Linked DNA regions of Homo sapiens: all the other regions are reported to be linked to region 4. The links are microRNA targets in miRTarBase. Many come from high-throughput screens and were not tested one by one. Region 4 holds a microRNA gene; each other region holds the end of a gene's coding sequence.

The links. The annotated mature microRNA hsa-miR-6081 reads AGGAGCAGUGCCGGCCAAGGCGCC and lies in region 4 at 1,014-1,037, opposite strand. An mRNA with a match to its seed (bases 2 to 7 or 8) in the 3' UTR can be bound and repressed. Matches are read on the target gene's strand: a 7mer-m8 pairs with bases 2 to 8, a 7mer-A1 pairs with bases 2 to 7 and ends in A, and an 8mer does both.
Region 1: the mRNA of RPL37A is a reported target of hsa-miR-6081. Seed matches in the 3' UTR shown: 7mer-m8 at 593-599.
Region 2: miRTarBase lists AREL1 as a target of hsa-miR-6081. Seed matches in the 3' UTR shown: 7mer-m8 at 394-400, 7mer-A1 at 586-592 and 7mer-A1 at 1,348-1,354.
Region 3: the mRNA of LRRC4B is a reported target of hsa-miR-6081. Seed matches in the 3' UTR shown: 7mer-m8 at 1,077-1,083.
Region 5: the mRNA of GID8 is a reported target of hsa-miR-6081. Seed matches in the 3' UTR shown: 7mer-m8 at 1,726-1,732.

What each region holds. Positions count from the first base shown.
Region 1 is chr2:216,501,060-216,504,059 of GRCh38, forward strand. It overlaps RPL37A (ribosomal protein L37a), which reads left to right. Exons shown (of 4, transcript NM_000998.5): 4 at 282-3,000. The coding sequence ends at 345. Among named protein-coding and RNA genes, the nearest start is that of RPL37A, 3.7 kb to the left of the region's middle.
Region 2 is chr14:74,660,945-74,663,944 of GRCh38, reverse strand. AREL1 (apoptosis resistant E3 ubiquitin protein ligase 1) reads left to right here. Exons shown (of 20, transcript NM_001039479.2): 19 at 1-46; 20 at 123-2,689. The coding sequence ends at 225. Among named protein-coding and RNA genes, the nearest start is that of LTBP2, 50 kb to the right of the region's middle.
Region 3 is chr19:50,515,150-50,518,149 of GRCh38, reverse strand. It overlaps LRRC4B (leucine rich repeat containing 4B), which reads left to right. Exons shown (of 3, transcript NM_001080457.2): 3 at 1-1,258. The coding sequence ends at 579. The region is part of intron 1 of LOC124904747 (a long non-coding RNA gene); the gene reads right to left. Among named protein-coding and RNA genes, the nearest start is that of ASPDH, 2.7 kb to the right of the region's middle.
Region 4 is chr9:95,063,293-95,066,442 of GRCh38, reverse strand. It overlaps MIR6081 (microRNA 6081), which reads right to left and starts at 1,093; the gene lies at 997-1,093. All of the region lies in intron 14 of AOPEP (aminopeptidase O (putative)), which reads right to left. RefSeq lists an enhancer at 2,956-3,150.
Region 5 is chr20:62,944,700-62,947,699 of GRCh38, reverse strand. It overlaps GID8 (GID complex subunit 8 homolog), which reads right to left. Exons shown (of 5, transcript NM_017896.3): 5 at 1-2,961. The coding sequence ends at 2,788. Among named protein-coding and RNA genes, the nearest start is that of SLC17A9, 6.5 kb to the left of the region's middle.

The DNA of each region.
Region 1 (3,000 bases), not on the chromosome of region 4:
CATGAGATTGTATGTCTAATTCTGCAAGATCCTGAAGGCATGGCTCTTAAAGGATGCCATCATGTAGTTTAGAAGCCACTAATTTCCGAGGAGTAATCTAATGTTGGTTAGATCTTTGGATTGACTGCAGCAAAGTATTGGTAGAGCAGTCTATCTCAGTATAATTCTTTCTAGGAAAATTTGGGAAGCGACTTTAACACAAAAACGAGGCAGATTTACTTATTTGCCATTTTCTATGTTAACATGCTTAATTATGTTGGAAACTGAATCTTTCTTTCCAGTACCACTTCCGCTGTCACGGTAAAGTCCGCCATCAGAAGACTGAAGGAGTTGAAAGACCAGTAGACGCTCCTCTACTCTTTGAGACATCACTGGCCTATAATAAATGGGTTAATTTATGTAACAAAATTGCCTTGGCTTGTTAACTTTATTAGACATTCTGATGTTTGCATTGTGTAAATACTGTTGTATTGGAAAAGCATGCCAAGATGGATTATTGTAATTCAGTGTCTTTTTTAGTAGTCAAATGGTAAAATGCAGCATAAGAATATAAGTCTTCCAAGTTAGATATGAGTGTTAGCTTTTTATAAGTCTGCTCCTGCCAGTTTGACTTTGAGATACATTGGAGCCAACTGTAAACTTTAGTTTTTAAATTACAGTTAGTTTTTTTGTTTGTTTTTGAGGCGGAGTCTCTGTTACCCAGGCTGGAGTGCAGTATACCAGTCTTGGCCCACTTCAACCTCCACTTCTTAGGTTCAAGCGATTCTCCTGCCTCAGCCTCCTGAGTAGCTGGGATTACAGGCACGCACCACCATACCTGGCTAATTTTTGTATTTTGAGTAGAGATGGAGTTTTCACCACATTGGCCAGGCTGTTCTTGAACTGACCTCAAGCGATCCACCTGCCTTGGCCTTCCAGAGTGCTGGGATTACAGGTGTGAGCCACCACGCCCAGCCTTGCATTTAATATTTTTATAATGTGTCTAGGCTGGGTGCGGTGACTCACGCCTGAAATCCCAGCACTTTGGGTGGCTGAGGCAGGTGGATTACTTGAGGCCAGGAGATTGAGACCAGTGTGGCCAACATAGCAAAAACCCGTCTCGACGAAAAATACAAAAAATAGCTTGGTATGGTGGCACATGCCTGTAATCCCAGCTACTTTGGAGGCTCAGGCACAAGAATCACTTGAACCTACGAGGCGGAGGTTGCAGTGGGCCAGGATCGTGCCACTGCACTTTATTTAGCCAGGACAACACTCTGTCTCCAAAAAAAAGTTTCTGAAGGTAAAAGATATACTAAAGGATATACATATACTGCCTCTTCTATGATGTTTCATTTGACCTACACCATCAGCATCTTCAGGAAACAGTATGAAACTAATTTCACATTAAATGTTGCAAACGTCTGCAATTCTCCAGTTTTTAGTTTGCACGTAAGGATTCGTAGGATTGATTTCAGATTGACAGATGGTTGTAGTAACAAAAAAATGAATTGCCTTGGAGAATTCGAGTTATTTTAGGCCTGCCTTTGACACTTTTATGCACTTAATTCACTGCCAATTTAGTCTAACTCCTCAACCATCTGTGGTATGGACTTCTCAGTCCTCCTAATTGGTATGTCTTTTATCTATCCCAGAGTCAGTAGTCCTTTAAGGATGCAAATTTAATTCGATAAGAATGTGGATTTACTTCATCTTTAGGACAGAGTAAAAACCTTTATTTCACTTGGTCTGACCCCTATCTTCTATAACTTGTTTTTTTGCTCATTACTGGCCTTTGCACGGATGTCTCCCTTCACCTGTACCTCCTGCATTGCCTCTGGCAGAAACATCGCTACCCCAGGAGAATACTTCACTGGGTCAGGCATTTGCTAGATCCATAGCAGTAACTCATCTGTGGATCTCATTTGTGTCACAAAATGGTACTCCTACTGATTTTGTAATGTGAAGCAAGTACTGTGGGTCAGTAGGGGTAGGACCAGGAGTGACAAGTCAGGATTTTCAGGCTTCATAGGAATGACACAGCTCTCCAGGTGAATCTCCTGGAGAATTCTCCATAGGATCTCCAGGTGAGTGACCAGGATTTCATGTAAGCATAGGGAATTGAATGAGCATTAGATGGTCTAATGCTGCGGTTAAGAACACCAACTTAGCCAAACTGCCTAGATAGTTGGGTGACTTGGGTTAAGTGACTTAACCTCTCTGCTTCAGTTTCCTGTATAATTCTTGGTAGTAGAATGGAGTATATGCTGGGTGTTTGGATTATTAATTTGGAGTCTTACAAAGCTGCTATGTTACATGATTAGGCATGGAAAACTTCGGTTTTTATAATCAGTGAAGTACTGCTTTTTGTTTGTTTTCTGAGAGAGTGTCTGTCACCCAGGCTGAAGTGCAGTGGCATGATCTCAGTTCACTGCAGCCTCTACCTCCCGGGTTCAAGCAGTTCTCGTGCCTCAGCCTCCGAAGTAGCTGGGATTACAGGCTTATGCCACAAAGCTCAGCTAGTTTTTGTATTTTTTATTTTTAGTAGAGATGGGCTTTCGCCATGTTGACCAGGCTGGTCTCAAACTCCCAGGCTCAACTGATAACGTCTGCCTTGGCCTCCCAAAGTGCTGGGATTCTGTAAGCCACCTCACCCAGCCATGTATTGCTTTTTTATGACAGTTAAAAGAGGAAAGGGCGGGGGACAGTTTACAGACCAGTGAAAGTGCTGAGATAAATATTTTTATACCTAAGGAAATAGTGATTTTCCCAAGATGATAGGGAGGCAGGTGATGTAGATAGGGCTGAAGATTAGATTTCTGGCTCCTATCTGTGATTTTCTGCTGTACCAGTCTGCCTTCTATTTTATGGGCTCAGTATTCCTTACCTGCCTCTTCCCATGCTAAAGATGGCCCACCTTCGTTTTGTTATTTAAGCAACTTCATCCCCTGGCTTGTTTTCACAGTGGTTTTCTGAGCCTTTGACTCTAAGTCATCTAATTGAACATTGTGTTGTGATATA
Region 2 (3,000 bases), not on the chromosome of region 4:
TTATTGCCGCTCCGACCCATAGCACGCTGCCTACTGCACACACATGGTAGGTATCTGCCCGCCTGATGCATGCCCAGTGTTTTTGGTGGTATGAGTTAATCACTTCTCCCTTGCCCTTCCAGTTTTAACCAGCTGTGCCTCCCTACATATGACTCCTATGAAGAGGTGCACAGGATGCTGCAGCTGGCCATCAGCGAGGGTTGCGAGGGCTTTGGCATGCTCTGACCACTCTCCTGTCATCCAGTTGGCTCCCATGCTCTCTGGAGCTTCTGGGCGCAAGTTACAGACATCATAACCACTGATCCTAACACACATAACCATCAGCCAGAAGATGCCGCATGCTCCCCTGTGTCTGGAGGATTTTGTCACCTACAAGCCTTGTCTTTACCTCACCTGCTCCCTGCCCATATCTACCACAGGCCACTTTGGCATGGTATGTAAGCTGAGCTCTTCATTCTGTCATGAGAAGAGGACCATGCTGCTATCATTTATTTGGTCCTTTGAAGATCTCAGTAGCTGAGGGAGATGGCACACGGGGCTCAGCCCTGTTGGGAAACTGGTGTGGAGACCCTTAAATCCACACTGTGCTCCAAAACTCCCTCTGCTGATACTCCTTGGAGACACCCTCTTTGGCCCTCACTACTTGACCAGACTGGTACTTGAGTCCTTCTCATGGGTGGGGTGATTGCCTCTTCTCATCAGGAGCCAGGAGAGAGGGGGACAGATAGGAGGTGGCCCATAGGAGCAGTCCCGCTGCACAATGGTAGGCATAGGCCATGGCACTGGACTGCCTCTAAGGACTGCTAAAAAGAATATTTTTTTGTGGTGTCAGAACTGGAAAAAGCACTTTCCCTTCGGGCATTTCTGGAAATGATTATTAATCCACAAAGAAGAACTCTGTAAGCTTTTTCTTGAATTGTAGCCAGTGAGAAAAGCAGATAGACTGAAGAATATGAAGGATAGCTGAGCTGTAGCCTCCAGAGTGGGGCATGCCTAGGCATATGGCTGGCTTGGAGACTACTGATGCTTTTCCCTGAGTTTGTTATTGGCACTGAAGTATGGCCGGCTTGGGCCACTGACTTCCCCATTATGTAGTCTGCTAAAAGCTGGGGATCCTTTAGCATTCTACTGAAGAAAATTTTGTAGCAAAAGATTAGAACAGTAAGAATAGTATGCCAGCAATCCCTGATTCTCTCTCTGCTTGGTGTTCTCTGGCAGCACTAAGACAAAGGAACAGGGACTAGGAGTTTACGTGCTTATCACAGGTCCTTGGCGTCAGGACACTAGGGATGAACATGGAGGTGATATGTTACACAGTAAACACCTGCCAACCCCTGTACTCCCCTTTGCTCCATCAGTTATCAGGAAGGAGAACTAAGGAGGGAGGAAGCTTATTAGGTTCACTGTTGAATGATGATTGAAGAGTACCTGCTGCTGTATCTTGGAAGATGACAACATCCTTTTTCATTACTGTTTGATTGAAAATAATTTCAAGATTCAAAATCTCATTGACTTCCCAAATTTGTGTTTTTAAGAAGGCTTTGCTGCAAGCTACCATTCCCAATGGGGCAGTCAACTCTGAGAATATTACAAGCCATCTTTATTGCCAAAACCAGCAAGTACACAGAGTCCTGAAACAAGGCAGGACTTTGGCAATGCCTTGGCCTCCTGGAAGCATGTCTGAGCCCTCCTGTTCGCAGGGATCATGAGGAACAAGCCCTCCTGAGCTGCTACAGTTCCTGCCTGACCTCAGTCTTTCGCAGTCATCATTTGTCCTTTCTTGGCACATGGGTGCTGACCTCACTCATCCTTGGGGTCCGGGATCCAGCATCAGGGTCTCTATACCCCAGGATCCTCCATGCCACATGGTCACTGCTCTCCTCAGGGACCAGGACAAGGTGCTGCTGCTTGCCCAAATGTTTTCCCATGGGATATGTACCGGAAGGTTTATCACCACCCTGGGAAACATAATGCTGCCCCTTGGGCCCAGAAAGGGGTTTCCAGCTGGGGGCACGTGGACTGGTTCTGCTGTTTTTGGCAGTCGCTTTTCTGAATTCTCCCCTCCGGCAGCCTTCCAGAGACTGATCCTGGAGATTGAGTTGATTGTCTTGGCTAGACCTGTCATTTTAAGCTCTAGTCATAGCACTTTTTCAGAGCATCTTAGGCACCATTGCAACCCAACCAGGGAAGCTGCATCCCTGTGGTGGTCCTTAGGCACCAGTCTTTGTTAAACAAAACCCTTTGGCACTATTGTGGTTTTCTATTCTCTGTCTGAACTCTATTCAAAAGTATCTTTGCTCTCTTGGGCCTTTTCTTTTACTGTTTTGTTTTTTTTTTTTCTAATCCTGCTTTCATACTAGCCAGTGTGGGGAAAAGGTACAATATGTCAAAGAGATGAGAGAGTGTTATTTCTTGGGCAATTTTCTATTAGTGTTTCTTATTTTGGCCAGTTCTTTTATTTATGTCCTTGTGACCCAGGTACTTGGGGGGCCAGCTACCCTTCTGGCCTTTTAGCGTCTTTGAAGGAGACCAGACATGAGTGAATACCTAGGAGAGTGTCAGCATGTTTCTGGAAAATTGGCAGAGACCAAGCCCTGCTGCAGATTCGTCAGGCCAGGTGAAAGGGCCAGGCAGTTGCAGCTGATGATGTAAATATTTTGTACAGTAGATAAATAAATGTTTAAAAGAACTAAGGAGTGAGTGGCTGCTTTAAATGGAGATTCATGGCTTGACTGGAAGGTGGGGAAGGAAAAGATTTGGAAATGATTTTGCATTTCCCCAGGAATTCCTCCTGAAGTGGTCGGCTCGGGGTAGAGTGTACACCTGGAGTCCTGGCCTGTCCCACTCTTGCCCTTTCACCCTTCCCTGATTGCTGTCCATGGTGCCAGGCAGGGCCACTGTCTCAGCCATGGGGAGACGAGGACAAGTGTTTATGCTCAGTTTCTGAAGAAGGAACCGGTTAATCAGTCTTTAAACAATAATTCATTGTTGTTTTACTAC
Region 3 (3,000 bases), not on the chromosome of region 4:
TGGGGTGGGGGCCGGCCTGGGGACGCGGCCGGCCCTGCCTCGTCTTCTACCACGGCACCCGCCCCGCGCTCCTCGCGGCCCACGGAGAAGGCGTTCACGGTGCCCATCACGGATGTGACGGAGAACGCCCTCAAGGACCTGGACGACGTCATGAAGACCACCAAAATCATCATCGGCTGCTTCGTGGCCATCACGTTCATGGCCGCGGTGATGCTCGTGGCCTTCTACAAGCTGCGCAAGCAGCACCAGCTCCACAAGCACCACGGGCCCACGCGCACCGTGGAGATCATCAACGTGGAGGACGAGCTGCCCGCCGCCTCGGCCGTGTCCGTGGCCGCCGCGGCCGCCGTGGCCAGTGGGGGTGGTGTGGGCGGGGACAGCCACCTGGCCCTGCCCGCCCTGGAGCGAGACCACCTCAACCACCACCACTACGTGGCTGCCGCCTTCAAGGCGCACTACAGCAGCAACCCCAGCGGCGGGGGCTGCGGGGGCAAAGGCCCGCCTGGCCTCAACTCCATCCACGAACCTCTGCTCTTCAAGAGCGGCTCCAAGGAGAACGTGCAAGAGACGCAGATCTGAGGCGGCGGGGCCGGGCGGGCGAGGGGCGTGGAGCCCCCCACCCAGGTCCCAGCCCGGGCGCAGCCTGACCGGGACCCCTCCCTCCCACAGCCCAGCCCACCTTCTGGGACCACGCAGGGAATTGGGGAGAGGTGGCTTCCAGCCCCATCTGGGGCTCGGACCCCCAGTAAGGACAGGGTGGGGCTCCAGGAGCGGAGTCTCTGGGATCCTCGCCTCACCCCCGCCAATCCCCGGTGACGGGAGGGGACGTGGGACCCAGGAGAAGTGGCCTGAGTTCTCCGCGTTTCCTCCTCGCTCTCCCACCAAGCGTTCCGGGCCCGCCGCCTTCCAGGGGAGAGAGGAGCTTTCTCCAGGGGTGTCCTTTCCCCTCGGCCCCAAACACCTTCCTTTTACGGTTCAGTTTTTGCAGTTTGACGCCCGTCCCTCCCTCCCACTCCTCCGCCCTCAAAACTGAAGAGATGGACACGTCGCCAGAGCTCCCGTCCCAGCGCCCGGCTCTGCTCCCGGCCGGCGGTCCCTGTCGTCGGCGCGGGGGGGAGCCTCCACCCGCCCCAGCCCCACCTGCCCCACAGACACTTTTGATACTGAAGGGAGGTTTGCGTCAACGACTACCTGCTCTGTAATTACTTTAAAAAAAAAACATGGAAAAAGTAAAAAAATATTTTTTTTGGTCATGAAAGCACGGAGGAGAGAAAACAAAGTGAATGTGGGTGGGGGCGGAAGGAGAGGCTGGAGAGCCAGCCTCGCAGCTCCGTCGGGAGGGTGGGCACGGGGCACCTCCGGGTGGTCTTAGGCCCCTCAGCCTTCACCCTGGAGACCCCAGAGAAGGTCTGATTCCCTTTCTTCCTAAACTCCTCCCCCAGCACCGCCACACCACACCCAAACCCAGGTGGAGACTTATAACAAAGGAAATCTATCGTCCCACAGTTCTGGAGGCTGGAGGGAGGGCCACGCTCTCTCTGAAACCTGGGGATACCTCAGGGGAGCTTCCTGCCTCGCCAGCTTCTGGTGTCCCCAGGCTGTCCTGGCTGGTGGCTGTATCACATCACCCCAGTCTTCCAGTGCCTGCCCCTGTAGCCTCTCATCTCTTCCCTCTGTGTGCGTCCGTCTGTGTCCAACTCCCCCTCTTTTATTTATTTATTTTTTAATTGAGATGGAGTTTTATTCTTGTCGCCCAGGCTGGAGTGCAATGGTGTGATCTCAGCTCACTGCAACCTCTGCTTCCCAGCTTCAAGTGATTCTCCTGCCTCAGCCTCCCAAGTAACTGGGATCACAGGCATGCGCCACCAGGCCTGGCTAATTTTTGTATTTTTAGTAGAGATGGGGTTTCACCACATTGGCCAGGCTGGTTTCGAACTCCTAACCTCAGGTGATCCACTCACCTCAGCCTCTCAAAGTGCTCGGATTACAGGCATGAGCCACCGCGCCTGACCGTTTTCTTTGTTTGTTTCTTTGTTTTTGAGACAGAGTCTTGCTCTGTTGTCCAGGCTGGAGTGCAGTGGCACAATTTCAGCTCACTGAAGCCTCTGCCTCCCAGGTTCAAGCGAATCTCCTCCCTCAGCCCCCTGAGTAGCTAGGATTACACGCGACTACCACCACACCCAGCTAATTTTTGTATTTTTAGTAGAGACGGGGTTTCACCATGTTGGCCAGGCTGGTCTCGAACTTCTGACCTCAAGTGATCCACCTGCCTCAGCCTCCCAAAGTGTCGGGACTATAGGTGTGGGCCACTGCAGCCTGCCTAACCTCCCCTCTTACAAGGACAGAGGTCAGACTGGACCAGGAGCCTCCACCTCCAGTATAACCTCAGCTCCATCCTTGGCAAAAACCCAATTCCCAAATAAGGTCCCATTCTGAGGCCCTGGAGGTCAGGACTTCTGCGCTTCCCTTTCTGGGTGACAATTCAACCCACAACAGGGCCCAATCCAGAGTGTGTCTCTCCACTGCAGACCCCCTCAAGGCTGCTCCAGAGGACGGGGTGCCGAAGGGGAGGGAGGCCAAGCGGGAGGCTGGGCCTGCGGCCTCTGGGGCACAGCAGCTGTATTTCTGGCCGGTTCAGTGGGAGGCTGGAGGGCCGGATCGGGTGGGCCTGGGGCGGCAGGGGCACCACAGTGCCACTCAGAAGGGCAGGAGCAGAGCCCTGGGAGGGCAGGGAGCAAACCCTGAGCGGGCCTGGCTGGGGGGTTGCTGGCACAGTGGGCAGCTGTTGGGTGGGTTGGGGGAGGGGGTGGTGATGTCTCTTGGGGGGTCAAGGTGCCCGAGTTGCAGGCCCTGGAGGGCTGGGGCTGGCCAGGGCTGCCATCTCACGCTGCTGGGGGAGGCAGAGGGAGGGACGGAGCCATGCAGGGCCTTCCAGTGCTTTCCCACGCTGAGGTGGCTTCGGGGACACAGCCCTGAGGACACACAGGCCTGCGCCCAGCC
Region 4 (3,150 bases):
ACTTTCATTTGCTATAAATTCACAGTAAACAAAACACAATCTTCAGGAACAACACAGGAAATTATTTATCTAAAAAAGAAAGTTCTTTGTGATTTTAGATCAGCTTTTTAAAAAAAAAATCCCTTTATCACAGTATAACAGGGGAGATGCTGTTGCAGGCTTTCCACAGGAAAGTTCCAGAGGCACTGAATTGAATAACAGAAAGAAAACCCTAAGAAGGATGTACTGAGAGACAGACCGTCCTGACTTTGAAAGAATGTTCTGAAACATCGATTAAATGTTTCATAAACCAAATAAGACAAAGAAAAAATGCACAAATAAAACCAGAGAACTCTATTCTTTCTCCTATCATAAAAAGCAGATGGTGTAAAAAGATATGTCTAAAGTAACTAAAGACAATTACCCCAATCCCTTTTTTCAATCTATACCCACCTTTTAAACTCTAGAAAAGGAATAATGCTCTGTCAAAGGGACAGCCATGACCCTCACAAGCATGGTCTCAGCTTTCTAAAAACCTGAAGTCACACTATTCACAGGCCATGTTCTAAAGTTCAGACTCATCGGTATCTGGCCTCTTGATCTGTAACCTAAGGTTGATGGCATCAATGGGCCAGTAAGCCAGACCCCTGTACCTGCAATCATACTGTGAGAAACGGCCTAATGCTGAGCTTCTGTGGGTTGCCAGGTGGAGGTGGCAAGTGTCAACTTGCCCTTTTGGGATCCCGGGGGGACCTGGTTCCTTGTATTTTACCCTATAAAAGCATTTCACTAATTGCACACACTACTCTGACACTCCACAATGGTGTTCTTTTTCATGTTCAATCTGAAAACCTGCCTTGTAGGGCTCTGTTCCACAATGGTGTCTCCTGACAATGCTGGATGATGACGTGGTGAGCCAGCTGGCTTAGTAATGAGGCCCTGGATTCGCCTGCACCAAGGGCAGCCAGCAGGAGAAGGGGAGGAGAGGAAAAGGGGGCCTGGGTGGGCCCCCTGGACATCACCAAGATGGTGCCGGCGCCTTGGCCGGCACTGCTCCTATTCATAAGCCTCGGTGTCCTACGGGGCAGAGGCCCTGGTGCCAGCACCGTGGTGGGAGAGGCAGAGCTGGGTGCTGCCCTCACACACCACGATGACAGGACCTGACGTCAGCATAGCCAGAGTTTCTGCCTTTATTACGCTTAGACTCTGGATCAAGGCAGACAAGAGGAAGGACTTCTAAGTTCAGCACACTACATATTAATAAATCTAAAGCATCGAGCATCCTGAAACAGCAACAGAGCCCAAAGAGATTATATCTAACCTTTCCTCTAAGCCACTCTGTAACAAAACAAAATAGAAATGTCTTACTTATTTGTAGCCAGAATACTATGAAAAAGCAACCAGGGAAGAAAAAGAAGCTCCAACAGCAGGGAAAAGACCCTCCTGAACATTTCACATCTCCAAGCCCTCCAAAGCAGAAGACGAAAGTCATCTCTAATGGAAAGAGTTCTAGCACTGAAAGGAACGAACAGAACCACAACTATGGATCAATTTTAGAATCTGGAGATGTAACAACCATCAAACCTTCATTCTTTGCCCCTTTGGTAAGTTCCTCTAGAGTTCTATTAATCATTAAGTGCTTGAGTCACAGAACTATGCTTTTGGCCCAAATGAAATTCATAAATGAGCATTAAAGCTGTCACATGATTGTGTTGCTGGACTCACAACTTCCACCTTTGGACTGCAAATAAATGCTATGGTGCTTTCTTCCCAAGTAAACAATGTATTAGTAACAGCATATTAAGATAAATACCAGCTTGTGGACCCGCCCCCTGACCAATGGCTTGTGTACGATGCATCAAAAGAGGTAGACGAGGCCAGGCGCGGTGGCTCACGCCTGTAATCCCAGCACTTTGGGAAGCCAAGGCAGGTGGATCATGAGGTCAGGAGTTCGAGAACAGCCTGGCCAAGATGGTGAAACCCCGTCTCTATTAAAATACAAAAAATTGGCTGGGCGTGGTGGTGGGCACCTGTAATCCAGCTACTCGGGAGGCTGAGGCAGAACTGCTTGAACCTGGGAGTTGGAGGTTGCAGTGAGCCAAGATCGTGCCACTGCACTCCAGCCTGGGAGACACAGCGAGACTCCGTCTCAAACATACAAACAAAAAAGAGGTAGAGGAGACCTAGACCCATTACACAGGGTCTGCAGGGCCTCTTCAGCTACTGCCCGTGCTACGGGACAGGCCTGTGACGCTGGTCGTTTTTTCCATTTCCAATCAACCTGGAGTTTCCTTTCTATCCTGGAAGGCAGCCGGATGAGTGCTGAAACAGGTATGCCCTTACAATCTGTTTCCTCACATTCACTTGCTCCTACTAGTTTAGTTTGCAATTCTACATGAAAGAGTGGAGCCTCCCAAGGTTACATTCTTTGGCACTTTGGGAGAGTATAGCTGTCTTAGGGTGGCCTCTAAATGTTGTTAGCAAGCTTTTTCTAGCTACTCCCCTCTGTGCTGACACCTTACTAAGTTGAGATTTTTTTTTTTTTTGAAACTGCCTTTTGTCAATTAGCTGTAGTCAGTCAGCAGGAAGAGCCGCTCACGTGCACACGAGCACCTGGGGCCAGGCATGAGGGCCAGACCCTGAAGGGAGACCTCCAGTGAAGCAGCACCCCGGAGAAGACACAGTCACAACACACGATACCCACACTTTCTTGCTCCAATCCAATCTCGGAGTCCTCTTCCTTTCAATCAACACTATTTCCCCCACACAGTGAAGGGAAGAACGGGTGCTACCAAATTCTCCCAGAAAACTAATGTTCTTATTAAGCATATCAACCAAACTCAAAGCAGGGCACGCTGCAGCATGGGCCTTTCGGATTCGTGGCCACCAGCAAAACAACACAGGGGGAGCCCATCCCCTGAGGCATGGCCCCAGTCTGAAAGCGCTCAGTGGAGTCTGCAGAGATCTGAAAGCGCTCAGTGGAGTCTGCGGAGATCTAAAAGCGCTCAGTGGAGTCTGCGGAGATCTGAAAGCGCTCAGTGGAGCCTGCAGAGATGCTGCTGCCTGAAGGTCAGTCATGGACTTCCTGGGGGAAAGAGGTCAGAAAGGCAAGGTCCAGGGATCCTCATCTCACTGCCATGGGTAGCTATTTTTACAGCTTAAGAGACCTGC
Region 5 (3,000 bases), not on the chromosome of region 4:
GGTCCCAACCAGTGTCTGCCTTTTCTAGAAACTGGAGACCCTGATTCAAATGGCAAGATGTGTTAGTTCCCATTTGCCTTGCAATAACCCTATGCTTCACAAAGATTCCAGACTAGGGGTTATTCCTCACCCAATTTCATGCATCTGGAACACAGAGTACCAGAATACTCTCACATTTTATTTCAAGGCACTCTCCAGCAGAAAGTATAATAAGAATAAACTACTTTGTAAAATGTGCCATTTTTATAAAGACAACAGTGAGATCCAAAATGAGACAAAGTAGAATTATACTGAATGTTCATTATCCCAAAGTGGCTTAATTTCATTTGCTTGCTGCAAAGACAAAGACTGTAAAAAGGAGCAAAGAAAGTGTGCAAAGCACTTCCTTGGAAGACCTCGTCCACTAACAGATCACAAGAAAAGCAAGTGCAGCCCCTCACACGAAAGGAAGGCAGGCAGTAACATCGGAGACTTCCCAGTCTCCCCGACGTCTGCTCACGCTGGATGCTGGCACTGGCTTATCATGAAGGGAAGGAGAGCAGTAACGCTGGAGACTTCCCAGTCTCCCCGACATCTGCTCATGCTGGATGCTGGCACTGGCTTATCAGCTACCCACTGGCTGAAATGGAAATCAACACCAGCACTTCACGTGACAGCCACATAGTGACAGTCCAGGCACGTGAATGACCCCATTTGTGTTCCCCTAGTTTGTGGAGAGACTTCCTATTGCTGTGCTTCTCACACCCTCTAGTTTTAAGAATATGTCAAATTGATGATATATTATGCAAGTAAACGATCTTATATACACGAATAGTGAAAGGTAATTAGGAATATGCTGAATCACCTGGTGCTGTTGAAGAAAACGTGCAGATGCATCTCTCTCACCTCACCGCTTTCTTCTAGCTTCTGCTATATTTCATCCCCTATTAGTTACTCTCTTTCCCTCCAACTTATCTTCATCCTCAAACCTCAGAGGAAATAATCGCAAGGGTCACATCTGGGAGAGTGGTAGTTGGAAGGCAGCATTTCTAGGGGGTAGGGAAGCACCACCTCCCCAGCACCGCATCCTTACAAAATCTAAAGGGCAACCAATGGGTCAGTCTGGAGGCCGCCATGCTTCTGTAACAACCGCAGCAATTTTATCTTTGCATCTCTTACTGGATTATATAAGCCATCTAGGTAAAGTAAACACTGCCAAAAGCTCCTACCCACTGGAAAGAGAAGTAGAGGGCTTGAAAACACAACTTCGCCAGGCTCCAACACAGAAAGAAGCATCATTCAGAGGCGAGAACAATGCTGTGGACGCCTCCTGATCAACACTCAAGGGATGCAGGAGCTCGGTGAGGACGGTCCCTCAGAGGCAGATGACCCGACCGGCTCAGGTACTGGCAAGCTGGCCACCAGACCTAGACCATGCTTGTCGAGATGCCTTGCTACTTGAGAATAAGGCGAGATCCCAGATTCAAGTGCTAGCAGCATTCTGCCCCTCAGATGCGCCGGCAGGCTCCACTGGCTCCAAAGGACGCCCTTGGATGGGTCAGCAATTCCACGAACATCCACTAAACCAACACTTAGCACTGCTCAGTGGGGTCAACAGTGCCCGGTGGTCCGCTGCAATGAATCCAAACACATCTGTGCCCAGAGCTACAAGGCCATGTGCCCATCAACTGTCCCGACTCGCAGGCAATGCACGCAGCCCTGCACCACTTCCCTCCTGCCCACCACGGAGCAGGGGACAGTTCTGTGAGTGAACAGAAGCAGGACATCGGCAGAGCCAGCTGACGATGGAGGATGAGATGCTGCCGAGATGCTGGAGGGCAGATCACTGAGGATGAACACGCGTTCCTTCCGCCAACAGTCGTGCACCACCTGCTGGGGCTCTGCGTCCCCACCGGCCAAGGGCTGCCTCGCTCTAATGAAGGCCGCTCACTCAGCACAGGGCCAAGTGGCCTTTCCAGCTGCAGGTACCAGAAAAAGCCACTGCCGCTATCACAGGGGGAAGAACGCCCCAAAGACAAAAGGTCATTTGAGATGATTAACATCTTTTAGAGGCCATTTTGGTCATTCTTGAAATCAAAGAGAAACCTTTATTTTCAACAAAACTGCCCAGAAGAGATGGTTCATTGATCCACTAGGAACAAGTCTCTTACCACACACAGCACCAAAATATATATTTAAAAAATTAAAAAACACATAGCCCCCTCACACGCATCCCCCAAAAGCCACACAACCCAGACCAAAGGGAAAACAAATCAAACTCAATGCCCTCACACATGAGCCATCTTTGAATTAGGATTTACAAATTTATATATTCTTTCCTATGGAAAAAGAAAAAAAAAAAAACACAAAAACCACAGGGGTAAGGAAAAACTTGTAGGTGAAGGCCCAATGTCTGCCTAAGCTAACAGAAAGCAGAATCATGATTCGTGCTTTTCCTGTATTTTGAGTGGGATGCAGCCTAACAGCACAGCCCTCCGTGGTAGACCGAATCCTTCAGCAGCCAGAGGCCCCCGAACACTGGAAGAGCAAACCGCAACCTTCCAGATTCTTCAGCGAGTGCCAGAGTGCAGGCTCTGCATCAGACTGCCAAAGAGACGGCAGCTTTCCTTGCAAGTTTTCCACTGCCTACAAAGGCCATTTTTCCCTATAAAAAGATGCCAGGTCAAAAAAAAGTACAAGGGAGAAAAAGAGTTCTCTACTGCAGTAAGAATCTTGCAGTCGCAGGCTGATCTGAGGCAAGTCCCACGACGCAGGGCTGGTGTTGGATCCACCACGCAAGCGCAGGCGCTACTTGGGCTCCTCAATCACACCCTTGCTGAGGTCTGTCATTTTGGGATATTTTACTTTCTTCTGGTCCAGCTCGTTCTGAGCCCAAAGTAGTAGTTTCAGTAATTTTGCCAGTTTGGGTGTTGACTCGCGATTTTCATAATCTAGCACAGCTTGGTTAACTTCACTCCACACCTAGAATATAAATACATCTGATAAAAACCACCATACACG